4 separate regions of the Homo sapiens genome follow, and regions 2, 3 and 4 are each linked to region 1. The links come from fine-mapping of genetic effects on gene expression. A gene starts in region 1. Each other region holds a variant in brackets. All regions are shown on one strand. Distances are from middle to middle.

Region 1 (7,771 bases):
TTTGTGCCTATTATGCTACTGCTGCAAATACAGTTATGAACAAGGTATATATGGTCCCACTCCTCACAGATATTAGTCCAGGAGGAGAGATAGATATTAAAGTAATAACTGATTCCAGATATAAGTAAAATAAATAAAGAGTGGAATACTTCTGAAACAAATTACAAGGGCATCTTACCAAGTTTGGAAGGACACAGTGTTTAGCAAAGACTTGTCTGAAGAAGTGACAATTACACTTAGACATCAAAAGTGAGTAGAAATCAACCAGACTAATACAGAGGCAGGAGGAAGGGTGATGGTTGAGAGCAAAGAAAACAGCTTGTGTGATGGTCCCTACACTAGAGGGAACTTGGTAAATTCAGACCTGAACTGCTATTGTGAAGGCAATGTAATTAACGGGGTGAATGGGTATAAAATATGAGGTAAGTCCTAGTGAAGATCTTAGAACTGTGGAAAGCTACTGGATGATATAAAATAGGAACATAAAAAAATCAAACTTGCATTTTAAGGACTTTTTGGCTGAGTATCAAATGAATCTTTAAAAAGTCCAGTTATATCACAATTTTGATAAAAGACTGGTGGGTAGGATGAACAGGAGATATTTAGCCAACCTGAAATGAGTCAAGAATTGAAAGGGCTTAGTGAAGAACAGGAGGCAGAGGAGGTGAGAAAGCAAGACTGACTTCTAGATTTCTTTCTCAAATGTGCAACTGGATTGATGGTGGTAGCATGGACTGTTTCGCTGGTACTGCCTTGCAGTGCTAGTCAAATGGAATCTATATACCATAGATTCTCTTAACTCCTTTCTCTATAACGTGTTTTTTTTTTTTTTTTTGAGATGGAGTCTAGCTCTGTCACCCAGTCTGCAGTGCAGTGGCGCAATCTCAGCTCACGACAACCTTCGCCTCCCAGGTTCAAGCGATTCTCCTGCCTCAGCCTCCCAAGTAGCTGGGATTACAGGCACCCGTACTTACTACTAAATATATATATATATATACATATATATATATATATATATACACATATATATATGTAAAGTGGTGCTACAGGCCGGGCACAGTGGCTCACGCCTATAATCCCAGCACTTTGGGAGGCTGAGGCGGGTGGATCACCTGAGGTCAGGAGTTCCAGACCAGACTGGCCAACATGGTGAAACCCTGTCTCTACTAAAAATACAAAAATTAGCTGGGCGTGGTGGCGGGCGCCTATAATCCTAGTTACTCCAGAGGCCAAGGCAGGAGAATTGGTTCCCATCCCCAGCTTCAACCTGGGAGGCGGAGGTTGCAGTGAGCCAAGGTCGCGCCACTGCACTCCAGCCAGACTCGGTCTCAAAAAAAAAAAAAAAATAGTGCTATGATAAAGCCTCTCATAAGGAATAATTATCAAAATTAAAATTCAGATGCACAGGACGATTTTAGAGGAAAATAAAAATTAAGGTATAAAAAGCAATCAATAGAGAGTACCTAACATACCAAAAAGTTGAAAAGCAAAAGAGGCAACCATACACAGTGGGTTGCGAGGGGGGTGTTGTTGAAAAGGCACGACTATTTTAAGCGTGTAGAATTTTAGGGATATAAGGATGAAAGCAGAGATCTCATGCAGACCTTATTCTAAATTGGCAGAGATAGTTCTTTTCAGAGTGAGGTGCACAGATAATTTATTAATAGAAAGTTAGCCTGCTTCCTTCCATGTCTTTAACAAAATCCTTTCATTTCATGATCAAAATGCAAATGTAGCCAAGAGTTCTGCAATTCACATGACTTAAAGGGAGGTTCACAAATGCTACCATTGAGGGGAGAAATGGTATTCAAAAAGTTTTGAAAATTTTATTTTTGATCTCACGGGTTGATTTAAATACTGTGTAACACCACATCCCCTCTCCTTCATTTTTTGTTTTACTTCACTTTTTTGTGTTCTTACTCTCTTTATAATCTTCATTTCACACCAAGTTTTCTCAGAAGAGATCTTGATGATGCAGCCAACACAAACCATCAGTTCTCAATTGTACATCAGTGATTCCACCAGAGAAAATGTGAGTTTTCTGTTCAAATGGGATCCTGTGGCCATATACATAAGGAACCTAAGTACAGCTAACCTAAGAAAATAGGCTAGAAGTGAGGTCTTATACTCTACCTTTTTCCAAGGAAATATACAAGACAGTAAATTTATATTTATATACACACACATATATATATTCATACATAAATCCACTTACAAAATAAAACTATTAAGTGTTGATACATCGAAAAGGATAGAAAAATAAGCTGAATATTAAGAGTAACATTCTCAGAAAAACAGCAAGGTAGATACTGAACAAGTGAAAAATTAGATGCAAAGGCTCTAAAAGTGTAATTCTTTGAAAAGAAAACCAGGACCAGTGCAGAAAAAGCCAGCAGCCCCTCTGCAAGTGCTACATAAGAAAATGAGGCCGGGCATGGTGGCTCACGCCTGTAATCCTAGCATTTTGGGAGGCCGAGGCATGTGGATCACCTGAAGTCAGGAGTTCGAGACCAACCTGGCCAACATGGGGAAACTCCGTCTCTACTAAAAATACAAAAAATTAGCCGGGTGTTCTGGCGGGCACCTGTAATCCCAGCTACTCCAGAGGCTGAGGCAGGAGAATCGCCTGAACCCGGGAGGCGGAGGTTGCAGTGAGCCGAGGTTGCGCCATTGCACTCCACCCTGGGCAACTACAGCAAGACTGTGTCTCAAAAAAGAAAAAAAGAGCCTACGGTGAAGGAGAGAGAGATACAGCAGTGAGAATTTCATAGGGTTATCTTTTAACAGAGACGGAAGCTGACGTGAGTAGACCCTGGAAAACGTCTAGGCCCACTGCAAATAACAACATCGATCAAACACTCATAATACAGGTGGATGTGAGTAAAAAGGAGACAAAGAAAGAAGACTACAAGAGAGAGGCCATCTGAAATAATATAAAAATAATTGATCATCTTTGATATGTTTTTACATGGTTGTCTTATTTAAATATTCACAACTCCTGGAGGTAGGGTTTTATTTTACAGAAAAAAAAAAAAAAAAAACTAAACAGGCTCAATGATGTTTAAGTATCTAGTCCAAGCTCACCACAGGGGCATAAAGTGGCAGAACCGACATTAGAGGGTAGACAGAGGGTAACCGCAAGACACAAATTTCGTGTTCTGCAACACTTGTGTAGGCTTCACACACACGTGCCTCCGGGGCCGAAAACAGGCGACACCATAGCACTTGGGCACTGGTGTCACCCGCTTCAAGAGGAAACTAGGATAATTATGACCAAAGGGGAACTTGTTCATTCGCCGGATATTAAAGGTGCCTACTTAAGTGCGAAGAACAGGAGGCATAGCGGTGACCAAACACCTGGCCCCTGTCCCCGCCGGGATCCCAACCTTGGGGACCCCCGAAGCGCCCCGGGCGGGAATCGGGTGGGACGCGGCACGCAGGAGGGAACGGGTGTACTGGGTGGGGTGGGCGTGACGCTGTCACCGCAGGAGATCGGGCGGGTAGGGCGGACCTGGGATGCGGGATAGAGGGGGCGCGGCATTCGCGCGAGAGGGACGCGGTGCGCAACCGGCTGACTAGGGGCCGCAACGCCTAGCGCGCGCGACAAACTACGCAGCGGCGGAGACAACTCTCAAGGGATAGGGCCATCAGCCCTGCGGCCCTGGCAGGTCCCTACCAAAGATCTTGGAAGATGCCGTTTGGGGCACTAAGGGGACCTGAAGTCCTCCCCAGGCTCATTCCCGCCTGGGGGCCTTGGCTCTGGGAAGGCACGCAAGGTAAAGGGAGCGCAACGGAAACTCACCGTCCATGGTCTCCCGCACCGCATTCAGATTCGCCGCCGCGGCCGCCGCCGCCGCCCCAGCACCGCTGCTACTCGCCATGGCTAAGGCCGAGGGAGGCGGGAGAAGGGCCTGACCCGGAACTGGAGCGCCTTCCTCTCTCCGAGGCAATCACACAGCGCGTCTCGGCCCACGCCGGGCAGGCTCCGCCCCTCGCGCTCGCCGCCGGCGTGAGGCTGCGTTGATTTGAATTTGGAGCCACGTTCCTCTGCGCGGAACGTGGAGCGAGGAGTTGCCATTCGAATTTCCTACGCGGCCTCCGTGCGATTGGCTGGTTCGCGGATGGCGGGACGACACGATTGGCTAGTCGCTCACAAGCCCCGTGCCCTGGTTGGCCCAAGACAGCGCGGAAGCGGGGAGTTAAAGAGTCTATGCCTGTCGTGGAAGCTGGCCTGGCCCCCGGAGCTCCCTGGAGTCGGTACTGGGGGCTTCGTTTTGTACGCACCGGTAGGTACGCTCTTTGTGGTCCCTGGCCTTTCCTCCTGTCTGAATGGAGAGGTTTCTTTTCCCAGCTCCTGACTTGCCTGCCCGCTCGCCCCTGGTGAATGGGAGCAGTCAGGGAGTAGGTGTGGAAGAGAGGGGCACCAGAAAGAGTGGCCACGTAGGGTTGGGGGCGACGCCTCCTTCGCACTCCATCCAGGGAAGCCGGCTGCATCTCAACCTTCCAGAAGTAGACTCTTTTCCACCCCACCCCGCCAAGGTGTAGCCTCTGTAGCCTCCTTTGATTGCAAGTAATGCAGTCTCCCTTTCTATCCCGGGAGGGGTGGAGGGGAGGTCTTGGCGAAAGGAGGATTTTTGGAGGAAAGGGGACCCCAGGCAGTTAATTTCCTAGCCCCTGTCAATCATACTTCTCTGGCTAGGACTCATGTGCAAGAAAGGCACAAGCTTCCTCATCTCTTACCTGCTTGCTACAAAGAATTGTTTAATAGCAACTGTAGTTGGATAGGGTATCCGAAGAATGTTCATAGTGTTGAGACATGAGATGATGAATTTAAAAAAAATTGTAGCTATAAGTCCTTTAGTTGAGAAGAGATCTGGGCCTGTTGTAACCTTTAGTTTCCTCAGAGGCAGATCTGAATTCATTCATATTTGATTGCTGCGTATAAGCCACTTCACTTCTCTGAGCTTAATACTTTCGCAAAATAATATCACTAGTAAGTTACTGCTATAGCTTTCAAGGTTGTTTCGAGGATCAGTTGAGAACATTTATATGTGATACTTTTTTTGTAAGCTGTATCATAGCCCCAAGAGTGTGAGGTTTTGAGTTGTTTTTTGTGACACATTTGTCGAGTACATTTTAATAGTTAAAATTAATATCTATGGGACTTTGTAATTTTAACATGCATACTCTTGATTTCTTTTTAGTTTTCTCTCTGTGCTATGGGAGATGTCAAGGAATCAAAGATGCAAATAACACCAGAAACTCCAGGAAGGATCCCTGTTTTAAATCCTTTTGAAAGTCCTAGTGATTATTCTAATCTCCATGAACAAACTCTCGCCAGTCCTTCTGTTTTTAAATCAACAAAATTACCAGTAAGTTATTCCTGACTAGTGTTTACAACTAATTTTAAATGTAAGTAATTACAAATAATTTTAAATGTAAACATCTGTCTTTACAAGGTAAGGAGGAAATACATTATGGAGCATATATAGCTGCAATATACTTTTTTAAATTGTAGTGTTCATTATAATCTAGTGGTTAGGTTAATAAGTTAGCTAGAAGATTTTTTTTTTTTTAAGTTCAAGAACATACGTTAGCTTCCTGCAGTTGTGGGTGTAGCTACATTCTGTGGTTGACGATATAGCTACTAATACATTAGAGAAGAAGCTGCATCATCTAATATTCTGTTCTCACTTATTTGGCAAACATTATTTGAGTGTTGCTATGTGTCAGATACAGTGCTAAGCAGGGATTACACTGTGAACAAGTTAGGATCATTAGGCACAAATCCTTAAGGAGGTTATACTCCGATGTATGGGTCACAAACTTTCTGTTAGGGGCCAGACAGTAAATATTTAAGCTTTACAGGTCATTTGGTCTCTGTCACAACTACTCACTTCTGTCTTGTATCACAAAAGCAGCCATAGGCAATGTGTAAAGAGATAAATGTTACTCTGTTCCAATACAGCTTTATTTATGGACACATTTGAATTTCATATAATTTTCACATGTCACAAGATATTTTTTTGTTTGTTTTCCCAACCATTTGAAACTGTCAAAATAATTCTTAGCTTGCAATCTATTATAAAAAGAAACTAACCCCTATTTTAATGTGTTAAACAGAACTAGATGAGTAATATCAAGGCAGTGTGATAGGTGATATGATTAGTACTTAGGACAATAGTAATATGAAGGAAAAGTGTTCTTCAGGATATTAGAAAAGGCTTCATCACTTTATCTTTTTTTTTTTTTTGGTAGAGATGGGATTTCACCATGTTGGCCAGGCTGATCTCGAACTCCTGACCTCATGTGATGCACCCACTTCAGCCTCCCAAAGTGCTGGGATTACAGGCATGAGCCACCATGCCCGGGCCACTTTATCTTATTTTACTGTTATTTGCTACACTGGATAAGTTCTTTTGACCTTGGATCTTTCAACCTACCAAGTTACTTAGAAAAACTGCAAATAGGGTGGCTGTTTCTGCTACACTTTCATACAGGTTTTACAATGAGCAAGTATGTACTAGTGGAAGGTCGAGCAGTTTATATTGAGTCATTTCATCAATCTGACCTTATGATTTTTAATTGAATCATTAAAATTTATCTCTTGGTCTTACTAAAAATAAATAATAGATTGACGGCAGCTTAATCCTCAAAGTTGGAATGTATGGCATCTTGCGTTTTTAGGACTGAATTTGCCTAGAATATATTTCTAATTACAGATTAGGATTTGGATAAACCTTTAATTCAGTTGCATGGTTGAGTACAGAAAGGCAGCACTGGTTGCCATTCATAATTATTTTAAGGATCAACTATGTTGTGAGCTTTTGCAGCCACCTCCAAAGTGACTAAGGACTTTAATTTCAGTTCCTTCTTAGTGAAAGTAAAGACGTTTGTTAACTGTGAGAGATTTTTACTTTTACATGGGCTTAGTTTATCACACTGATGAGTGTTAATTGTGAAAGTTTTATATCTTTATTACTCTGTTGTGATTTTTCTCGTATTACGTAATTCCAACCCAGGTGAAAGATTCTGATATTTTAAAAGAGATACAGGCTGGGCGCTGTGGCTCATGCCTGTAATCCCAGCACTGCCAAGGTGGGCTGATGACTTGAAGTCAGGAGTTTGAGACCAGCCTGGCCAACATGGTGAAACCCCATCTCTACTAAAAAAAAAAAAAAAAAAAAAATACAAAAATTAGCTGGGTGTGGTGGCGGGTGCCTGTAATCCCAGCTACTCAGGAGGCTGAGGCAGGAGAATCGCTTGAACCGGGGAGGTGGAGGTTGCAGTGAGCTGAGATTACACCAGTGCACTCCAGCCTCGGTGACAGAACGAGACTCTGTCTTAAACAAAGAGAGAGAGAGATACAATTAAGTCAGTTGATCGAATGTGATATGATTACCCTTTGCCATTTAATTTCATGGTAAAGTCAAATTTTAAAATACAAGCTTTAAAATATTTTCATATTATAACCATTCATATTATTTCTCACATAGGTTAGCATTTTGATGAACTATTTTAGTTTGCCTTTACTCATAAGCTCACTTTCTTTTGTTAAGACTCCAGGGAAATTTAGATGGTCTATTGATCAACTAGCTGTAATAAATCCTGTAGAAATAGACCCAGAAGATATTCATCGTCAAGCTTTATACTTAAGTCATTCTCGGTAAGTTTTCCTTTCTTGCACCTAAGTCTAATAACACTCTCAAGTGAAGAGAGGTAGGAAATTCTAAATGTTGAGTATTTTTCTATGTAAAGGTATCAGGGAGAA
Region 2 (7,771 bases), 460 kb after region 1:
AATTTATTCAAAAGATGAGCCTTGCAGAGTGAAGATTAGCCAGGTAAAGAAGAAGGAGAAGAGAATTCTAAGCCATGGGCTCCAAGGCATGGGACCCTGTGCCTTTGTCATGGTGCTCTTGCTGCCACTCATATCCAGGTCTCCCTTTGTCTTCCCATTTACTGAAGAGAACAGACATGAGAGCGGTGGTTGAGTACAGTGTCTATGGCCTGATGGAGCAACTGTGAGAACTTGGAGCACCGAGCATGAAGGCACATGAGGGGTCAGGTGAGGTGGGGGTCAGGGGTAGGGTCCAGATGTGGAGAATTTTTTTTTTTTTTTTTTTTTGGAGACAGAGTCTTGCTCTGTAACCCTCACTGGAGTGCAGTGGCGTGATCTTGACTCACTGCAACCTCTGTCTCCAGGGTTCAAGTGATTCTCCTGTCTCAGCCTCTGGAGTAGCTGGGATTACAGGCATGTGCTACCATGCCCAGCTAATTTTTTGTATTTTTAGTAGAGACAGGGTTTCTCCATGTTGTCCAGGCTGGTCTTGAACTCCTGACTTCAGGTGATCCTGCTGCCTCAGCCTCCCAAAGTGCTGGGATTACAGGCGTGAGCCACTGCACCCGGCAGATGTGGAGAGCTTTATGTACCGTTTCAAGTGGTGTAGACTCCTTCTACGGGCAAAAGGACATCTTTGCAGGGCTTAAGCAGCAAAGTAATATGAACAAATTTGTGTTTTAGAAGGGTCATTCTGATAACAGAGTGAAGAATGAATGGGAAGGAGGCATGACTTGAGATGGGAAGACAAATTAGTATTTAGCAGAGCAGAGTGAAGTGGGTAGCACTGAGCTGGAATCAGCAATTGGTGATAGATGGGATTGGGAGGTCAAGGATGGAAGTGATTTCGAGTAGAGGAGCCTGGGTAAAATAAGTTCCTTGAGCATTTTTGAACTTTACACTTGCTTTCATCCTCTTCATCCATGGCCATATGCTTCCTAAAGGGATGATAATAATTACGATTATTAGAAAAAAGTCTTTTTAATTCTTCCTTCTGAACTGAAGCAAATGTAGAGGTGTGGAGTTCAAAGTTAGAAGATCTCGATGACATGGGCAATTCAATTGCCTTGGAGCCTCAGCTTCCTCTTTGGTAAAAGGGAGATAATGCTGCCTACATCACTGGACTGTCATGACAGTTAATTGAAATAATGTATTAATGTATATAAAAGCTTTTATCAGTACCTGATATAAAGCGGGCATTTAGACCTCCATTCACTCAATGTATTGTGCAAGAGAGAAGTTTATTTGGACAACATAGTCTTTTAAAATATATGTATTTTGGTGTAGTGGCTCAATGCCTGTAATCCCAGCACTTCGGGAGGCTGAGGCGGGAGGATCACTTGAGGCCAGGAGTTGGAGACCAGCCTGGCCAACATGGCGAAACACCGTCTCTACCAAAAATACAAAAATTAGCCGGTATAGAGGCACACACCTGTAATGTGAGCTACTCACGAGGCTGAGGCATGAGAATCGCTTAAACCCAGGAGATAGAGGTTGCAGTGAGCCGAGATTGTGCCACCGCACTCCAGCCTGGGCAAGAGTGAGACTCTGTCTCAAAAAAAAAAATGTGTATATATATATATATATATATATATATATATATATATACACACACACACACACGTATATATATATACACACACGTATTTATATGTATTTACATATATATTTATATGTATTTTTAATATTAACATTGTATTACAAACCAGAATTTATTGAAGACTTACAATCTGCAAGGCACCATGAAGGATATATAAATGGAAGACATTGTTTCGGTTCTTAAGGTTTTTTGCAATCTGAGAGAGAGAGGATTTGTATGCGTGAAAAGTGTAAAATCAGTAAAATATTTAACCTTGTTTTATTTTAAATTTTAATTTTATTTTATTTTTATTTTGAGAGGAGTCTCGTTCTGTCACCCGGGCTGGAGTGTAGTGGCGCCATCCTAGCTCACTGCAACCTTTGCCTTCTAGGTTCAAGCAATTCTCCTGCCTCAGCCTCCTGAGTAGCTGGGATTACAGGCGACCACCACCATGCCTAGCTAATTTTTTTTTTTGTATTTTTAGCAGAGACAGGGTTTCACCATATTGGCCAGGCTGGTCTCGAACTCCTGATCTCAAGCAATCTGCCTGCCTTGGCCTCCCAAAGTGCTGGCATTATGGGCGTGAGCCACTGTGCGCCCCGACCTAACCTTGTTTTAGAGGTCAGGGGACAATAGAGAATATGAAACAGATAATAATGAGAGTTATCAGATGTGTTTACTTAGAGGCAGAAGATGTCACTTTACCCTAGAGTACTTACAGAAGGCTCTAGGGAGGAGGTTGAATTTGACCTAGATTTTAAAGATGATTTAGGGTTTATAATGTAGGTGTTGGCAATCTACTGCCCAGTACATTATCTGTTTTAATATGGCCTGTGAGCTAAGAATGGCCTTTAAATCATGGAGAAATTGTTTTAAGAGAATAATATTTTGTGACACATAAAAATTACATGAAATTCAAGTTTAGTGCCAATAAATAAAGTTTTATTGAAACACAGTCGCACCCATCCTTTTAGTATTGTCTGGGGTCAGATACATTTGAGATAAAATAGAGGAGAGCACTTGTAGCAGAGACCCTATGACCTGCAAAGGCTAAAGTGCTTACCATTTGGTCCTTTACAGAAAGCTTGCTGAACCCTGGAGAAGAGGATGCAGAGACATTCCAGGTGTGTAGAAAGCCAAGATTAAGAATGGCTCCATTGAAGGAAACAGAAAATGGTCACAAACAGAGAAGGAGTGTGTGGGACTTTCCTGGCAGCCATGGAGGGGAGAGAGAGTGTCTCAAGGGGTAAAGGGCGTCCGTAGTGCCAAGTGGTACCAAGAGAGAGCGCAGAAGTGCAACTGAGGAGAGAATCTGAGCTTTCGCCTTCAGCCATCACTCCTGAGTTTTGAATCCTGTGGCAGAAGGGGAGTGAGAGATGGGGAAGCAGAGGCAGCGTTTAAGAAATTGGGTGCAATCAGAAAGGTTTTAGTAGGGAAACACCCATGTTGTTTAAGTACAGTATGAAATGGAATAGACCTATGTATATTCATATGCAGAGGGAGAGTAAAGCAATTAGGGAGGTTTTGGAGAGGTTATGTAGAGGGTCGGGCACGGTGGCTCACACCTGTAAACCTAGCACTTTGGGAAGCTTAGATGGGAGGATCATTTGAGCCCAGGAGTTCAAGACCAGCCTGGACAACATAGGGGGATTCCTTCTCTACCAAAAATAATAATAAAAAAAAATATTAGCCGGGTGTTGTGGTACATGCCTGTGGTCTCAGCTGCTTGTGGGGCTGAGATGGGAGGATAGCCTGAACCCAGGAGGTCGAGGCTTCAGTGAGCTGTGATCACACCACTGCTCTCCAGCCTGCATGACAAAGTGAGACCCTGTCTCCAAAAAATATATATATATGTGTATATATATGTGTGTGTATATATATATATGTGTGTATATACACACGTGTATATACACACGTGTATATACACACGTGTATATATGTGTATATATGTATATATGTGTATATACATGTGTGTATACACATGTGTATACATGTGTGTATATACATGTGTATACGTGTGTATATACATGTGTATACATGTATATACATGTGTATGTGTGTGTATATACGTGTATGTGTGTGTATACACGTGTATGTGTGTGTATACACGTGTATGTGTGTGTATACATGTGTATGTGTGTGTATACATGTGTATATGTGTGTATACATGTGTGTGTATATATGTGTATATATATGTGTGTGTATATATATATATGTAGGCTATGTAGATATGTAGAGAAATGCTATTTAAAACAGTGAGGTTGGAGAAACATTGAAACAGCATTATTTTAGCAAGACTTCTCTCAACTGATTAGTTCTTGGC[C/T]TTGGAAAAGTTGCTTAACATCTTGGCTTGCTTTGCTTATCTATGAAGAGTGGATAATAATACACTCATCAGAGGATCATCGTGAGAAATAGTGAGATGATTCTGTTTGGGCAATGTCAAGAACATGAGATCTGCACTTAGTACATTGTCAACAAAGAAATAACTCTTTTTTTTTTCTTTTGAGACAGAGTTTTTGCTCTTGTAGCCCAGGCTGGAGTGCAATGGCGCGATCTCGGCTCACTGTAACCTCCACCTCCTGGGTTCAAGTCGTTCTCCTACCTCAGCCTCCCGAGTAGCTGAGATTACAGGTGCCCACCGCCATGCCAGGCTAATTTTTGTATTTTTAGTAGAGATGGGGTTTTGCCATGTTGGCCAGGCTGGTCTTGAACTCCTGACCTCAGGTGATCTGCCCACCTCGGCCTCCCAAAGTGCTAGGATTACAGGCATGAGCCACTGTGCCCGGCCAAGAAATAACTCTTAATGCTGTGATGTTTAAGTTTTTATATCAACATGGGTAGGCCATGGTACCCAGATTTGTGTCAAACAGGAGTCTGGATGTTGCTGTGAAGATTTTTTTAAAGATGTGATTAACATTTAAATGAGTGGACTTTGAGTAAGGCAGATTTCTCTCCGTGAGGTTGGGGGGCCTCATCCAATCAGTTGAAGACCTTAAGAGAAAAGACTGAGGTTCCCCTGGGGGAGAAGGGATTCTGCCTCTGGACAGCCTTTGGACTTAAACTACAACATCAGCTTTTCTCTGGGTCTCCAGCCTGCTGGGCTCCCCTCTAAATTTTCAGACTTGCCAGCCCTCAGAATTGTGTGAGCTAATTCCTTAAAATAAATCTCTCTCTCTCTCTCTCTCTCTCTCTCTCTCTCTCTCCTTCCATCCTATATATTGTTTTTTTTTTTTTTTTTTTTTTTGGAGAACAGTGACTAATTCAAATAACTTCTGAGTTAGACAGTAATCACTAACAATGAAAGTGTTACTATATTAAGGGACAATTGCTTTATACCCCAGAGACGGCACATACAATGCATTGATGTCACCGTGCTCACCATGTCCCATTTCTGAGCCTGTGGCAGACATTGTCAATTGATCACAGTATTCTGTATTGCTAAAACTAGATGTGACCTCAGAATTTTTTAAATACAGGGTTCTAGAAATGACTAACAAGTGATTAGAGTTGGCACTTAACTTGAAATAGATTTAATTCCGACCTAATCCATATTTAGGTATCTACAGCACTTTGCATAAAATTCTTCCTGGAACTTTGCAATTGTGATTAATAGATCTGAACTTGAAATTTAGAAGTTAAAATTTCAATTTCTTATGTACAAGTCTAGAAGCCACTAAAGTCCTTCATCTTATGTAGTAAGGACCATGTCATATTTGCCTTTTAGATAAGTTTTAAAAAATATATATCTTTTAAAGGTATCAGTGACTTTGAAATTCCAAAATAGAGTTAGAATAAAAAAACCCTGAAATTATACTTTTTTATTTCCTCCAAAACTAAGGGAACGTTCATATATAATTTATAAAGACTTCATTTTAATCCTTGGTTAAAGTGTTTGATCAAATATTCTTCTCACTTGAATATGTGTAACATTTATTGAAATCAAATAAGTGCACATAGCAGAGGGTTAAATTTTACATTCTCTTTTTTTTGTTTTATTTTTTACTTTAACTTTTTTAGCATTTCAAATGTTTTTATTATGAAAAATTTAAATATATACAAAATATGAGAAATTATATAATTCATCCCCAGATATGCATCACCCAGCTTCCATAATTATAAACTCTGTCCAATTATTTTATCTATACTACCATGCTGTTTTTCTTCCTTTCTCCTGGATTAGTTTGAAGAAAACACCAGACATTATATCACTTATAAGTATTTTGAATATATCTCTAAAAGATAACTTATTTAAAAATATAATCCCAATTATGACACACAGAGTACTAACAAAAATTCCGTAATTTTTTTTTTTATTATACTTTAAGTTTTAGGGTACATGTGCACAATGAATTTTACATTCTCTAAGCTCTTGATAAGAGATTTACTCACAAAGCAAGTAGGAATTCCTTGGCTTTTCAAATTTTGGGGGGTCTGTTATGGAAAATTTTTGTACTGTGTATGAAGAAAATATATGCTACCTTGGAGTGTGGTGGTAATATCATGTTTCTATGCTATCATTTTTTTCCAAGTATTTAAGTATTTTAAGATGTTATCTCTTTAGTTTTCATAGCATGCTAGGAAGGAGGAAGGACATGTTGTTCTCACCTAGCAGTAAAATTAGGTAAGCAGTTACTCAGTCTCTTGCATAAGCCACTGATCGAGCTGGGGATGTGATACCAAACAGTCTTCTGCTCAGTCGTCCATTGTGACCCTGCAGCATCTCCCATCAACCCATTCATCCCATTTTCTTTTTCTTAGTTAATAACTACACAGTTGATTCTTGCTTATCTGCTCTGAGGGAAAGGGGAAGAACAGGGCATAATCTCAAATGGTAGATGATACAAAAATAATTTGGATTTGGCGTGGGATATGTTTTTGTACTTGCACTGGAACCTGGGTGTGTCTGGTGTTCCAGAAATTTATAGCATTCCAAATCAACTGAAGAAACTGTGCAAGGAGAACCCATGGTGGGGGTCTTCGCAAATGCACCTCGTTTGTCTCCATTGTTTCCTAGCCCATCTCCTGCCTTCCTCAAGCTCTTCCCTGCTGAGATCAGGCAGCGCGATCTCTCATGTCAATGTGTCGAAACAGCCTAAGGAAAGCTGTTTTTTCTTTCTCTCTAAATCCTATTATGAGGCATTCATCTTCTCCTTCTCCTGGGAATGAGAGAAACCGGTATCTTGCATTAGAAATTGTTAATCATTTCTTAAAGTTTGTTTTTTTAAATGCAAAGGTACTGATACGATAATGTACTAAGAAAAGTTAAAACAAGATTTTTTTTGAATATGTAATAATAGGAACAATGTAAGAAAGACACTGCAAGTCTTTGATATTGTGTGGGTATCAGATAATGACAAGTGAATGAGAAACTTCATAAGAAAGTGAAAGTATCTCTTTACATTTTGTGGTGAATGGGAAGAAGTTCTAGAGTTCTTTTGCAGCATTTGCTTGTTTATCCAAAGAAACAAACACTAGTATTACCAAGGTTCTGATTTTGTGTATCCTCACTTTCATCCTGAATTGTTAAGACTCTTGGTTGTGGTGATAGAAGCCCACCTTAGCTTAAACAACAAAAGGAAATGCACTGACAAATGGAACCAGATTAAAATGTCTCACTGGCTTTAGTGACAACTGGAACTGAGAACCTGAATGATGTCTGGCCTCTCTATTTGTCTGTCTCGTCTCTGCCTCCTTCTGAAGCCAGCTCCATTCTCTTCCATGGCAGCCTGACTCTCTCCCTCGTGGAGGAGGTGAGGGAGAGGATGACATGTCTGGCAGGCAGCCCTTGATTTAGTGACTCGAGAAATAAGAGATTCTTCTTCTTTTGGCAGCCCGGCAGAGACATTTTGGGAAGATTCCCAGTAGTTCTTTTTGGTTCATGCGTCCACCCCTGAACCAATTGCTGTGTCCAGGAAGAGATGAGACTCCAAGATGAGTCCCATAAAACCCTGTTGTGAAGTTGGTGGTGCCTGTTCACAGAAGGAAAAGCGGAGAAAGAGTGGCAGATGGGCAAAACTAATAGCTATTATGCCTCCATTCATGTTGATTTTCAAATATAGGATTCATCTTACAATAAGCTTATTACTTTTTTCAGAAAAAAGCAAAAATCTGCAACACCAAAAAATATCTAGTATTCACGACACAGCGAGACTC
Region 3 (7,771 bases), 320 kb after region 1:
TGCAGTAATGGAGAAGAGTAAATTATTAAATGGACACATTATTTACGTTTGAAAAAAAGCTGCATCTCATGCTAGGAAAATAGGTTACAGGCAATTTTGCATTATAATGTGAACATGTCATTAGTTTTAATTTTCCACACCAAAGATTGTAGGGTAATTTGCTTTCATTAGAATGGAGTAGTTTTTCCTCTACATACATTATCTTTCAAACCTCTATTGCCTCCATGAGAGATTTTAGTTCTTCTTTTCTTAATTTGTAAGAAAAATAGTCTTGATTTTTCTAAGTATCTAAATATTGTGGCAAAAGTTTTATTGCATATAACAAGAGCTGAAACACAGGGTGAACGCACTGCAAATGTGTCATAACCATTGCACAATGCCAAATATCATAATATATGAAGGTATACCACCACCATTTGACATGTTTTAGTGTTGTAGGGCACTAAGTGTACACAGTGTATTTCTCTGCTGTAAAATGTAGGCTACTATAGAGGAAGAACAGTAATCAGTTACACATTAACCATAAAAGGTCATTTCTTGCGGCAAATGATATGTTGATCAAGCAATATTTGTCAGTAGACCTGAGTCTTACTACTGAATGACGCTCATGAAGAAAACCATTGTCCAGTGGGACATCATCATATATGCAAATCATCCATTTGTTTGGATGGTTTAAATATCATCAAGTCTTTATCTTCGCTTCTATAATGTAACTCACTGACTTTTCAGCTAATCAATCCCTGATGCTACATTTTTCTGTTAACTTACTATGCTGCACAGTCAAACAATGATTAATCTCCTAATGTTAACTATGCGATAAGAAAAATATTAAAAGAAAATGAATGACGTATTCACTTGTGTTACAAAATTGTCTATAAACTAGTTTCCCAGCATGAGCTGTGGTTTATTTTCAAACTTAAATAACTTGTCTATGTAACCTTATCTTCCAGGTACTTCCTGCAAACTTCATACATTATGCAATCAAGCCCATAAATATAGGTAGAAGTTAACTTGAATGGCTGAAACAGAGTTAACCACACACATGTAGTTAGAGCGTTATCATTTCTGCCATAAACCTCTCCCTTTTAAGAGATTTACCAAGCTATCATAAAAAATGTGTTATTGCCTGTATCTTTGCAAAACATGAGTTCCTATGAAGTGACTTGCCAGCCTGGGCAACAAAGACAGACCTTGTCTCTACAAAAAAATTTAAAAATTAGCCAGACGCAGTGGTATGCGCCTGTAGTCCTTGCTACACTCAGGAGGCTGAGGCAAGAGGATTGCTTGAGCCCAGGAGTTCCAGGCTGCAGTGAGCTATGATTGCGCCACTGCACGCCAGCTTAGATACCAAAGAAAGATCCCATCTTAAAAAAAATGTGACTTGGCTTCTTTTTTTTTTTTTTTTTTTTTTTTTGACGGAGTCTTGCTCTGTCACCCAAGCTGGAGTACAGTGGCACGATCTTGGCTCACTGCAATCTCCGCCTCCCAGGTTCAAGCGCTTCTCCTGCCTCAGCCTCCCGAGTAGCTGAGACCACAAGAGTCCAACACCACGTCCGGCTAATTTTTGTATTTTTAGTAGAGACAGGGTTTTACCATATTGGCCAGGCTGGTCTCGAACTCATGACTTTGTGATCTACCTGCCTCAGCCTCCCAAAGTGCTGGGATTACAGGTGTGAGCCACCGCACCCAGCCGACTTGGCTTCTTAAACATTAAACATACTGGATTGTTGCTACATGTCACAATGGCCAGTGTGTTTGTATACTGATATCACTGAATTGAGGTGGCACTGGTATTAAGTATCCTCTCTTTAGTTTTTGTAAATTTCTGAAAAATTAACATATTATAACTCCAATGATGACATATTACCAGGATCATACAAACAAATGCATTCAACCACCTCACCAAACAAACAAGGCGAAGTGTAAACCAGGATGCTTTATGGAGGAAAAAAATGAATAGACTTAATCAAATATTCATGGTGAGAGGGATAGAGATTTTCCAGAGACATATCAACCGAAAATAATTGGGCAGGAAAATTGAAAGGATCAGACTTTCTTTCATAAGTTGACTTTGTAAAATGCTACATAGCAAGCATCACATTGATCATTCTGCTGGTTCCTTTTCAGGAGCTGCTGCCAGTGCTTTGTATCTTACAGCATATGTGGAGTAGATTAAGAAACTAAACTCAGTTATTGTGAGGTTCTAACATTTTTTAAACAGGTAAACACAAGGCCTCTCTTTCTCTTTGTATCTTTATTTTATTTTATTTGTATTATTGTTTTAAAATTTATTATTCTTTTTTTTTTTTTTTTTTTTTTGAGATGGAGTCTCGCTCTGTCGCCCAGGCTGGAGTGCAGTGGCGCAGTCTCTGCTCATTGCAAGCTCTGCCTCCCGGGTTCATGCCATTCTCCTGCCTCAGCCTCCCGAGTAGCTGGGACTACAGGCGCCTGCCACCACGCCTGGCTAATTTTTTGTATTTTCAGTAGAGACAGAGTTTCACCATGTTAGCCAGGATGGTCTCGATCTCCTGATCTCGTGATCCACCCACCTCGGCCTCCCAAAGTGCTGGGATTACAGGCGTGAGCCACCGCGCCTGGCCTTATTATTCATTTTTTAAAATAGAGACAAGGTCTTGCTATGTTGGCCTGGCTGGTCTCAAACTTGTGGCCTCAAGCAATCCTCTTGCCTCAGCCACCGAAACTGCTGGGATTACAGGCGTGAGCCACCATGCCCAGCCTAGAGATCTTCTTGTGTCAGTACAGATATAGACACTTTATTCTGTTAAAATTGCTGAATAGGCCAGGTGCGGTGGCTCACGCCTGTAATCCCAACACTTTGGGAGGCCGAGGCAGGCAGATCATGAGGTCAGGAGTTCAAGACCAACCTGGCCAACATGGTGAAACTCCATCTCTACTAAAAATACAAAAATTAGCTGGGCGTGGTGGCGCGTGCCCGTAATCCCAGCTACTTGGGAGGCAGAGGCAGGAGAATCGCTTGAACCTGGGAGGCGGAGGTTGCAGTGAGCCAAGAGTGTACCACTGCACTCCAGCCTGGTGGGGGTTGCAGTGAGCCGAGACCGCGCCACTGCACTCCAGCCTGGTGACAGAGCCAGACTCCATCTCCAACAAAAAAAAAATTGCTGAATAGTAGTACATGGTGTGGATGTACTAGAGTTTACTTAATCATTTACTTGATCATTACATACTTACTGTTGGATATTTAGATGGCTGCTGATTTTTCATTATGACAAACAGTGCTGCAATAAACATTCTGCTATGCCTATCTTTGTGCACATTTGAATAATTTTGAGGAACAAATTCTTAAAAATGGAATGTCAAAGTGTATGACACTTTTATGTGTGTGTGTGTGTATGCATATATATATTTTTTTATTTTTTATTTTTGTAAAGATGGGGTTTTGCCCATGTTGCTCAGGCTGGTCTCAAACTCCTGAGCTCAAGCAGTTCACCCACCTCAGCCTCCCAAAGTGCTAGGATTAAAGGTGTGAGTCGCCACACCCAGCCGAAATTTTATATTTAACAGATCCATGAAATTGCCCTCTGTACAGATATATATTTTACAAAGTCCACAAGAAGTTATATTTTTACTGACATTATGAGACTTTCAGTTTCCTCTACATCCTCCTGGAATCTTTCTCATTTTTGTACATCAGTTGAACAAAATGCTATTCCATTACTGTTTTAATTTGCATTTTCCTCATAGTCAGGGGGTTGGAAATCTTTTCCTATGTTTATTGGCCATTTGTATGTCTTTTTTGTGAATTGCCTATTTACTCCTATTGCCTAATTTTTTGTTTGTCGCATTAT[C/CT]TTTTTTTTTTTTTTTTTTTTTGAGATGGAGTTTTGCTCGTTGCCCAGGCTGGAGTGCAATGGCACGATCTTGGCTGACCACAGCCTCCGCCTCCTGGGTTCAAACAATTCTCCTGCCTCAGCCTCCCAAGTAGCTGGGATTACAGGCACCCACCACCACACCTGGCTAATTTTTTTTTTTCTTCCTGAGATGGAGTCTCGTTCTGTCACCAGGCTGGAGTGCAGTGGCGTGATCTCAGCTCACTGCAACCTCCACCTCCTGGGTTTAGGTGATTCTCCTGCCTCAGCCTCCCTAGTAGCTGGGATTACAGGCATGTGCCACCACACCCAGCTAATTTTTTTGTATTTTTAGTAGAGACGGTGTTTCACCGTGTTGGCCAGGATGGTTTCAATCTCTTGACCTTGTGATCTGCCCACCTCAGTCTCCCAAAGTGTTGGGATTACAGGCGTGAGCCACTGCGCCCGGCTAATTTTTGTATTTTTAGTAGAGACAGGGTTTCTCCATGTTGGTCAGGCGGGTCTCGAACTCCTGACCTCAGGTGATCCACCTGCCTCAGCCTCCCAAAGTGCTGGGATTACATGCGTGAGCCACTATGCCTGGCCAGTTTATCTTTTTCTTTAAATAGCTTTTTAAAGAATGTCTTTTGTGATTGTGAATATTAATCTTTTGCTGCAAATAATTTCTCCTAGTCACTTACTATTTTGGGAACTTGAGGGTAGAGGGGTCACTTATCATTTAACTTTTTTTTTTTTGTCAGGGGATAGAGTCTCACTCTGTCACCCAGGCTGGAGAGAATGGTGAGATCACAGCTCACTGTAGCCTCAACCTGATAGGCTCAAGCAATCCTCCTGCCTCAGCCTCCCAAGTAGCCAGGACTACAAGCATGAGCCACTGCACCTGGCTATGTCTTTTAACTTTATGATCACACTGATTCACAAGACTTTCCATTATGTTAGAAATTCTCCTGGACTTTATTACATAAATTATTTACACATCATGGAGAAATCTGATTTGATCCATTTAGGGGCTAATTGTTCTCATCAATTTATGTAATCTGTGTTGAACCCTAAGCACCAAGCTAGTTCTTGCCCGGAATTCCCTCCGCTTTCCTCCTATCTACCGTTTTGCAGTTTGCAGAGACTTGCGCTTTCTTTAAGGGTTAATCCAAGTATCAAAGTCCACAGTGATCTCTCTCTTCCTGGTTCACCATGCATTTGGGACATGATAAAGTTTTGTATTTTGCATGTGTATATATTGTAACTTAAACTAGATGGGATTCTATTCAACTGAAGCAGCTTCGCTTTTGTCTGGACTCTCAGTGTTTTTACTCATAGGAGTCCAGTACGTATCTGTTGGTTGTTTTAAAAATACTTTATCATAGGAAAATCTTCAATGACTCCTTTCTCCCTCATACATACACGCTGTGGGCAATTTGCATCGGCATCTCTTCAATCATCCTTTGTGTGTGCTCTGTCTTCTGTTGCCACGTGCCATTAGGCCACCCTGCTCATTATGTCTGGGATTCCAAACCTCAACAATAATGTTGTGAACAGTGTTAAGGATCTCATTTCTGCCGGGCGCGGTGGCTCACACCTGTAATCCCAGCACTTTGGGAGGCCGAGGGGGGCGGATCACAAGGTCAGGAGTTCGAGACCATCCTGCCGAACATGGTGAAACCCCATCTCTACTAAAAATACAAAAAAAAAAAAAAATTAGCCGGGGGTGGTGGCAGACGCCTGTAGTCCCAGCTACTCGGGAGGCTGAGGCAGGAGAATGGCGTGAACCCAGGAGGTGGAGCTTGCAGTGAGTCGAGATCGCACCACTGCACTGCAGCCTGGGCGACAGAGCAAGACTCTGTCTCAAACAAAAAAAAAAAAAAAAAAGGATCCCATTTCCTCAAAACGTTCTGGTGGCATAAAAAGAAGAATCTAGTATTTTTCACATTTGAAAGATATATCTTTAAAGTCCAACTGGTGCCTGGCATGGGTCTTTATTTCATGCTACCTCAGATCTGCCTTCTCAAACACATTGCAGAGCGCGATGTCGGGATGGCCCCACTAAGATCAAACCCCATGGTCCTTGACAGCAGGTTTTTTGGCTTTTCAAAATTAAACCCAGGTTGGGCACGGTGGCTCACGCCTGTAATTCCAGCACTTTGGGAGGCCAAGGCGGGCGGATCACGACGTCAGGAGTTCAAGACCAGCCTGGCCAACATAGTGAAACCTCGTCTCTACTAAAAATACAAAAATTACCCAGTCATGGTGGCACATGCCTGTAGTCCCAGCTACTTGGGAGGCTGAGGCAGGAGAATCGCTTGAACCCGGGAGGTGGAGGTTGCAGTGAGCCGAGATCGCACCATTGCACTCCAGCTTGGGCAACAGAGTGAGACTTCATCTCAAAAACAAAAACAAAAACAAAAACAAAAAACACCTAATCAAAACTACATTAAAATAAAATTGATATTTTATTGTTTGAATTGTGCATATTATTACCACTGCCTCTACTATGTTTACCTTTTTTTTTTTTTTTTTTTGAGACAGAGTCTTGCTCTGTCGCCCAGGCTGGAGTGCAGTGGCGCCATCTCGGCTCACTGCAAGCTCCGCCTCCCGGGTTCAAGCAATTCTCCTGCCTCAGCCTCCCAAGTAGCTGGGACTACAGGCTCCCGCCACCACACCTGGCTAATTTTTTGTATTTTTAGTACAGACACAGTTTCACTGTGTTAGCCAGGATGGTCTCGATCTCATGACCTCGTGATCTGCCTGCCTTGGCCTCCTAAAGTGCTGGGATTACAGGTGTGACCCACCGCGCCCGGCCTTTTTTTTTTTTTTCTTGTGACGGAGTATCACTCTTGTTGCCCAGGCTGGAGTGCAATGGCATGACTTTGGCTCACTGCAACCTCTGCCTCCCGGGTTCAAGAGATTCCCCTGCCTCAGCTTCCTTAGTAGCTGGGATTACAAGTGCCCACTACCACTCCCAGCTAATTTTTTTGTATTTTTAGTGGAGATGGGGTTTCACCATGTTGGCCAGGCTGGTCTCAAACTCCTGACCTCAAGTGAGCCACCTGCCTTGGCCTCCCAAAGTGCTGGGATTATAGGCATGAGCCACCGCCCCCGGCCTATCCTAATATTTTTTAAAGACATAACGGCAGTAATGTTCTTTCTGACATTTTCATTTAAAGCTCTGGAGCCTCGTGTGTGTGTGTGTGTGTGTGTGTGTGTGTGTGTGTGTGTGTTGTCTTCATTCTCATACATTCAAAGCATTTAGTGTGCTACACGGCAGAAACTGCACCATGGGTGTAGAATAAAAACAAGTTTGATAACTGTGGTAACTGTGGTGGCACCTAAGACATCGAGGCCATCATGACAGAGAAATGACTAGTCCATGAAGACAGAGGAAAGGGATGTGTTTGAACTGAGATGGAATTGCTTGTGTGGATTAGTGCTGGGTTTTCTTCAAGTTAACTTTCAACCTTCTATAAATACAAATCCTCGAAGACCAGTCCTAGACAGCAGAATTTCATCTGTTAAAATAAAGTCTTCAAACGTTATTCCTTTTATTGTTTTTAGTTTTATTTCACAATGATTTCAAACCTACAGAAAAAGTTGCAAGAATAATACAAAGAATTCCCATTCTTTTTTTTTTTTTTTTTTTTTTGAGACGGAGTCTTGCTCTGTCGCCCACACTGGAGTGCAGTGGCACGATCTTGGCTCACTGCAACCTCTGCTTCCCAGGTTCAAGGGATTCTCCGGCCTCAGCCTCCCGAGTAGCTGGGATTACAGGCACACACTACCATGTCTGGCTAAACTTTTTTTTTTTTTAAGAATTCCCATATACTTTCATCCTGATTTGCTAATCATTAATATTTTGCCACATCTGCCTCTCTCTCTGTATATCTGTTTCTATGTCTGTTTATATCTCTCAGTATGCATATAATACACTCTCA
Region 4 (7,771 bases), 890 kb before region 1:
TAAGATAAATATGTATTGAAGTCATCATCGGGCTTGGTTTTGTGTGTGTGTTTAAATGTAAGACAAAACATATGGTAGTTTCTAGATGCAAATAAATAAAATCCTGATCTTAGGAAATTATTTTTGAAAAATAGAATAGAATGACTTTGGACTTAATTTTCAAACACAATTAATTTGACTTTAGAATAAGTTTGTCTAATTTGGATAAATTTCATCTAAAACAAGAAAGTCACTGCAACTAAGTACGTACTGGGAATAAAAATTCAACTGTATAAATTTATACAAAATTAAATTTGCTTTATATACTTATTTCCTCCTCAAACCTAGGCTTTGACTTCTTTAAATTCTAAACAAGTAATTTTAGGCTGCTCATCCATTATCTCCAAGCATTCTCTTCCTGCAAAGGATCCACCATGGTAATAGTTCTTTCATCAAAGCCTAATGGTTTGTTTCAAATAATCAAAGTAGTGTTTATATCACTGTCCTCAGGTGCAACCATTTTGCTTCCCGGAGAGCAGTATGGTACATGCTAATGTCAGAAGTGATAAATCAAAGTAAGTACATTTGTTTGTCTACCTTAACCAGTCTATTCAGCACCACTAACAAAAATACATGTTGGCATTTGCACTTATGTACTTTCTATTTGAGACCATCTAGTAATAAAGATTACCAAGAAAAAAATGCATATGTAAAACAGATGGTTGTGCACAAGTCTTAGCCTTAGGAGAAATTCCAGTGTTAGATGGTGGTTGCTGTGAATTAATTTGTATGCTTTACCTAGGGAGAGTGTAAAAATAGAGGAGTAGTTCCACTATAAATGATCAATGATATGTTTTCTACTTATAGGAAATCAGAATAGCTTACTTTCTTAAAATCACCAAATATTTTAAGTAGATATATTCATTTATCTTTTACTAACATAAGTAGTAAAAAAGTTAAGAATACGAAACACACCTACAACACTAACAGATTCAGAAAATATCTGAGAGGTTGCAATCAAATTTATCTTATTTATATAGGCAAAATTCTTATGATAGCCAATAGGAAACAGAATCAAGTTAGCGTAAATTAGAATAAGAAATTGAGTACTATTGTTCTGGTCATTTGCAGCTTGAAGTTGCAGTGACACCCAGAGCTTTTGTTCTTTCAGCCAACGGAAGTTGTAGAAGTCACAAATGTTTTCTATATTCAAAAAATAATAGAACTTGTCTGGATATTGATCATTTCCAGTTTCCAGTTCCTGTCGTAGTGCTTTTAGCAGCACTAGAGAAAGTCTAAGGCAAAGAGAAACAGTGAAATCTGTCTACTCACCTACTTAAGCATATATAAATGAGGAAGAGACAAAGAGAAATTGACAAGTGGAAAATAAACTGAGATGAATTAAAGACCCACTATGTTTAACCGACCAGTCTAATATCCTTCGAGAGCCAGAATTCCCTTTCACGTTCATCTCTGCTCAAGAAAGTAAATGAGAGCAAAACTACCAGGTTTGTGACTCCTGAAGGGAAAAGAAGACAAGACAAAAAGAGCTCTCAAAATCTATCTTATGCCTAATAAAAAAGGAAGAGCTGCCAATCCCATCTTATTTACTTTTGGATTTTAGAACCATAACATAAAGTATATTCTTAGCAATAACACCTCACCCTGTTTCTCTCTACTCTAAGTGATGGCTTCTTCACAATCAAATTCAGTCAATAGCCCAAGACTGATAGGACTTATCTTGAGATGTCAGCATGGTTCCAGAGGAACAAACTGACAAAGCAAAGGCAATATGTTAGGGAATAAAATCTAGTTAAATGGTAGGATGCCTGATTATGGTCCCAGAAATGTATATAGATCAAATAGTGTTGAAGAAGCTTAAGTACAAACGATAAAATGACTGAATAAAGTTAAAGCCTTTTCGCCACCACATGAAGTGCTTCTAGGGCAAATGAAGAGGCATGTGCTATTTTAAAATGTCATCACATTTAGAGTTTTCCTTCAAAATTGTGGCTACTATTTCCTCAGTAACTCTTAATCTAACTGGAGTAATTTTTTTATTCCTAAATATTTCGAATATGGAATTGTTAGTTTTTCTCATGTTAAAATGCCCCATTTAAAATATTTAGTAACCACATGGTTTAAGTTAAATAGTATTATATAAAAATAAACATAGAAACTAATAAATACAAGTTAAAAAAAAATAGTAAGGTCCGAGAAACTGAAAATCTGCTAGTGATGTTTTGATCTCATACACATTTTTATATAAATGCATGTTGTCTTTCATTAAATCATTCCCCTCTAAAATGAGTCCTAACATAACTTGTGATATATAGGGTGGGCTTTTTTCTGTACTACTATATACCCACCAGAGAGTTAATCTTCTGATTCTATGAAAGACCCCCTTCAAATGAACAGCTTAATAATCTATCACAAAATCATGATTAATTTTCTACCACCATGCTACATACTGGGATTGCTCCCAAATGTTCAGTTTAATTTAAGTACTTTCTGATTCATGAACCGAGGGATAACATACAGCTATAAAAAGGTAATCCAATCCTAACATGGCCTTAACCCCTATAATCTGCACTTCAATAGCAGGGAAACTGTATAGTTTTGAAACTGTAATCAAGAATTTTTTTTGCAAACACACACTGGAGCTGTCCTTTGCTCCCATCTCTTATTAGATTACAATAAAACGACCATGCTCTCTTTATGGTGGGAACAGAGCGACCCTGGGGTGATTTATAATCTTGTGAAACCCTGTCCACACTGCTGACCAGACTTTTTTTTGAGGTCACTATCTGTTTCTTCAACTGATGTCTTCCTGCTGTGACAACACTGTTGGAGAGCTGTCAGCACACAAGAATTTCTCAGGCTAGGTATTGTCTTTGAACGCATTTCTTGTGTTATTTCTATTGAGAAGCATTTGCGTGCTTGGTGTTTAGACAGTAAAGGATCTTTCTAAGATTTTCTCGTTAGTCTAAATCCTGACAAAGAGAAGACAACTAAATGGGAATAAATGAAGTGGATCTCTTATTGACAAAGGAAGAGAATATTTATTTCTTCAAAATGTATAACATTGCCATGGAATACAAACAATAAAGCAACAATTCATGGTAAAAATGAGAGTATTGTTCTCCCCAATAGCAAAATAATTTGACTCCAACATGTTAGATATTGTCAAAAGTAAGTATTAGCTAAAATGCATGGGGCCTGCATAAACATAAAAAAATAAGTGTTTCGATTTTTGTTTTTAATGTAAAAAGCAGAAAAAGTTAAACTAAGAAAATGTTTTAATAGTAAATTTTCATAAAATAAGTTGCAATCTCCATTCTTGTCAAAAAATGGCTGTAGATGACTAAAACTGATGTTGAATATTCCCAAATAGAAAATTATACTTAAAAATCAAGTAGATCATAGCTAGAGTTAGAACTACCTAAATTTTTTTTGTTATTATAGAAGAGGAACTTGTTCAAATGATAGACCTTGATCAATTTAGCTTCTCAAAATAAGACATCTTCTACTACTGGAAATGTAAAAATGTAAGAGAAGGCATGATATCCAGCCACCTAGGTTCAATTAAAGCAGTTTGTTTCATTTTGTTTATTCTCATTTCAATTGTATTTAAGTTAAATGACCAAGCCAACATTAAATTGCTTTGTTTTTATATATAGATAACTCCTACTATTCTAAAAAGAGGAGTAATTAATTTATCTCTATTTTTCCTCTTTTTTGAGAGAAGACAATT[A/G]AGTAAAACAATCTGAATTCCACTCCCTACTTTTTTATTTTTATTTTTATTTTTAATGAAATCCATATAGCTTCAGAAAGACGCTAACAGGGAAGTTGCGCTCCCTTCAGAATCTTCTGAGATCTATGTGAATAGAACGTTTTGAAAGCTACAAGAAGAGAAAACATTTTGTAAGAGAGAGCCAACATTGATGTAAAAGAATCCTAGTGCATCAGATTCATCTGTAGCACCTGGGCTAGGAGTATTAGGGATGCTCAGTGAGAAATACCTGCCCCAGGACCCACTGAGGGATGGGTTCTATGGTCCAGTGGATGTAGGTCACTTTCACCCAGATACAGAGCTAGGTTATTTAAAGAGGCTCATGAAAGTCTCATAGTTTCATCCTTTTTATTTTGTTTATCTTTGTTTATAAAGAGAATAAACAAATTTAAACTAAATTTTGTTTGAAAGCATCCGTTAACCTAATTTGTACACATTACTACTTGAAGTATAAGTGGAGAGAATGATGGAAAACAACGATGTTGATAGACTAAAACAGAGATTTATAAACATATTGTGTAGCATCATAATTTTTTTTACAGTATCCTAATTTCAGGTGGGAGTGATAATGTTGGAACTTAACTATTCCTGAACTTGTATGAATATCACAATTCAGAGCCCACACCAACTATGGGATTTGGTGACACAGCCTGGGTACTTTATAAGCTTTTTTGATTTATAAGAGTATTCATTCATCTAAACTTTTATAACTAAGAGCAGTGAGAGACGCCACTTAAAGACCTTCGACAGTGTCATGCAGTTTTGCCTAGGATGGCTTTGTGAAGCTAAAATAAAAAAGTGTCTTAAAATGTTTTAATAGTAATTGATACAATAAATTGTAATCCCTAGTTTTGTCAAAACTACAATTTATTAACTAGCATAAATAAGTAAAACGTAGATTAATTCTCTGAAATAGCACAAGATATTTAAAATTCAAGTACACCCTATCTAGGGTTGGAACTAACTGATCCTCATCTTTTTATTCATCAGTATAAGTAATTTTGAAATGATGATGAAAAAAATGTTTAACTTTACAAAAGTATGGACACACTGGTAGTCATAACAAATACGTCAAATGTTCCTTTGTTTCCAGGAGGTAACCTACCATTTACCTTCTCCAAGGACTCTTAATAAAATGGACAGAAAAAATCAATTAAAGTAGCGAAATATCCCTTAGGATAAAGTTACTTCAGCAGTCAGTGCACTTCTCAGTAATCTCTTTATCTTGTGCTGAAGTAATACACATTTGTGCCATGTTTTTAAGTACTATATTTTTCATAATGAAGCTATTTAAAACTGAGCAGTGGAAAGAGAATGGGTGCTGATACAGCAAACGTTATGATATAAAAACAGGGTTATGAGGGAAGCACACACCAGAAATGGAAAACGTGATTAGAAGCAAAATGGATGATGCAAAGGTTCTCATATAACACGCCCGTGAAGTAAGACCCCAAATATCTACCTAATCTCCACTATCTAGAGCTATTGTGCCCAAGAGCACCTCTGAAATACTATTATGGGACATTATTTCTGGAATCACTATCTATATAAAAGAAAGTAGTCCCATGAATGAAGTCAGAACTTGAAGAATTCAGCATAGAATTCCACACGCTTTTTAACGGCTCTGTTGCCTCGCCGCACCCCGCTGTAGCCTATGTTTGACCAATTCTCTCATTTTATAAAGGGTGGACCCACCTTAACATTTAAGTGGCATCTGATGCACTACTTAAATTGGTTTCGTTTTCCCATTTCAAAAATTGGGACTTTAATACGATATTGGGAATAATACCCATTTGAGATCAAAGAAATCATGTGCACATTTTTGCATTGGGAATCAGAGAAGATGCATAATTTTTGGAAGCTGAATAGATACCCACATATTTGTCGGCATTCTGAAAATCCCAGGCATTGCATTTTTACCTCTGCTTTTTCTACTTCTCCCTTTTCCCACATTTGTCTTTCTCTCAGTGTTTGTCCATGTGCAGGGAGAGAAATTTAGTGTTGAGGCTCAGCCCAGGAATTTGCCAAACAGATAAGAAGACAGAAAAGCAAGCTTGCCAAAATTTTTCCCATTTCTCCTCAACTCCCCACCAAAATTCATTGTTCTTCCTACATATTTGCTGGTGAAAACTTTGGAAATGTTGGCTCAGAGAGTCACAATAAGACCAAAATAGACCAAAGGGAGCTGTTTGAAATGGTAACCACCAGTCTGTTAGAAAAGAAACCGGCCTGTTCACTTAATGAATAAAATACCTAGAGCTTGCCAAGGCAAATAAAGGCTTGTTTACTGAGATGTATACAAATACAAGAAACAGAGCAAAAGGACTGGAAGAAGTAAACTAAAGAAAAAATATTGTATGGAGAAGTCTGAATTAAAATGAGCTTTCAATCAATTTTGCAATCACTGTCATTCATGAGAAACTCTGTAATGCTTATTAAAATGAAAATAAAACAACAAGGGTAAGAATCCTGTTCTCTTGGCCTGCCTCCAAGTAAGGTAATTTTGTCTTGTCTCCTAAAATTATCCCAGAGGTAAAAATTATCTCAGACTTTTTAAAAACTGCTCATCTCTAAGCTACTGGTGATTGATCCTTTATGTATTGGTGAAAAAAAGAGGCCCTATTGGTCCATGACTGTATATATCCCCATTTGCCCATGATAGTCCTAGTTTATACCTATTGTCCCAACAGAATTAGTAATATTGTTTCTGTTTATTCTCAAGAGTGTCCTAGTTCGGCTAATTAATTTTATGGTTACCTTATCTATGCCACTCTGAAGGAATGAAAGAAGTGATGAAAGTCAATCTTCTAGCAAACAACAACAAAAAAATCACTTTAAAGAAGTTTACATTAAAGTTTATACAGATTCATTTTCTAACATTCTCCTACAAATCTTCTACTATCTCATAAAATCGCAGAGATCTGGAAATTTTCTATTGTATTTAAGATATTTATACCTCTTAATACAAAACCAAGTGAATGGTAATCACTGCAGGCTATTTACCAACTTGAAAAAATAAAATAGTTCACTAATACTCCAATTAAAAGCAGAACGGTTGAACACAGTTTATCATAGGTACTCAGATTCAGGAACTGGTAATAGTCTTACCTTATCTTGCTCAATAATTGCCTAATAATAAATCTAGCCAAAGAATTCTGAATCACACATTTTATTCCTTTCACCATCTTGAGAAAAAAGGTACCATTATAGAGTATTCTAGATATTTCTCATTAGAGAGAAAGTCCCATTTGGTAGGCTATGAAGAATTCTACATTTTCCAAAAAAAAAGACTAAAATATTAAATAAAAATTAATAGTCAATGTTTATTGAGTGGTTATTATGTCTCTCACTGTGCTAAGTGCTTAATATGCATAATTTCATTTAATGTCACCCAAGATTATTCCACTTTTAGACGAGTAAGCTAAGACTCACAGACTTTAAAAAACGTGCCTACAATCCCCAAGCCAGCAAGTGGCAGAGAAAAGATCTTAAAACCTAGTTTTTATCTGCAGCATAGTTTGTTCTTGTCCCTTAGAATTGCAGGAAAAAAAATGTAATATTTTCCTACTTGTAGATAATGCAAAGCTTTATAGCATTAACTCTGATCCATACTTCCTATTTCCCTCCTCTACTAAGCTAGAAACCAAAGCGAGAGAAAATGCAAAGAAAAATAAGCTCTGTTAAAATGCCTTTGAGCTCTTCATATCGCCTTCAAATATTGACTCAAATGTCATTTTCTCAGTGAGGTAGGCCTCATTCTGACCACTTTATTTAAAATTTCACCTATCCCACTCTTCATACCCCAAGCTCTCTCACTCTGTCCTATTTTTAACGTAATTTGCTTATTGATTATGTTAATTCTTTATTGCCTCCCTCTCCACCCCTAACCATGAGTGCTAGAATTGAAGCCCTATGAGGGTAGGGATTTTTATCCAAAACACCTAGAAGAAATGCCTGTCATATATTAGGTGCATAACAAATATGCATTGAGTAGATAAA

Alleles and levels. Positions count from the first base shown, and alleles are read on the strand shown. Sizes are in standard deviations (SD) of each study's normalised expression. Not every link is listed here.
For the expression in lymphoblastoid cells of the gene that starts at base 4,202 in region 1, allele G in region 4 goes with a higher level than allele A (large effect, 0.79 SD a copy in GTEx).

What was found.
Region 2: its variant is fine-mapped to the expression of BORA in visceral fat (GTEx, PIP above 0.99).
Region 3: its variant is fine-mapped to the expression of BORA in whole blood (INTERVAL, PIP above 0.99).
Region 4: its variant is fine-mapped to the expression of BORA in lymphoblastoid cells (GTEx, PIP above 0.99).

What each region holds. Positions count from the first base shown.
Region 1 is chr13:72,723,722-72,731,492 of GRCh38, forward strand. It overlaps BORA (BORA aurora kinase A activator), which reads left to right and starts at 4,202. Exons shown (of 12, transcript NM_024808.5): 1 at 4,202-4,286; 2 at 5,205-5,372; 3 at 7,560-7,666. The coding sequence starts at 5,220. It overlaps MZT1 (mitotic spindle organizing protein 1), which reads right to left and starts at 3,908. Exons shown (of 3, transcript NM_001071775.3): 1 at 3,803-3,908. The coding sequence starts at 3,881. RefSeq lists silencers at 3,354-3,413, 3,369-3,550, 4,074-4,223 and enhancers at 3,644-3,713, 4,434-4,483.
Region 2 is chr13:73,183,308-73,191,078 of GRCh38, forward strand. No RefSeq gene overlaps it. Among named protein-coding and RNA genes, the nearest start is that of KLF5, 130 kb to the left of the region's middle. The variant C/T (reference allele first, on the strand shown) is at 3,942.
Region 3 is chr13:73,040,224-73,047,994 of GRCh38, forward strand. No RefSeq gene overlaps it. Among named protein-coding and RNA genes, the nearest start is that of KLF5, 15 kb to the right of the region's middle. The variant C/CT (reference allele first, on the strand shown) is at 3,828.
Region 4 is chr13:71,829,210-71,836,980 of GRCh38, forward strand. The region is part of intron 1 of DACH1 (dachshund family transcription factor 1); the gene reads right to left. Among named protein-coding and RNA genes, the nearest start is that of DACH1, 34 kb to the right of the region's middle. RefSeq lists an enhancer at 2,507-3,112. The variant A/G (reference allele first, on the strand shown) is at 3,734.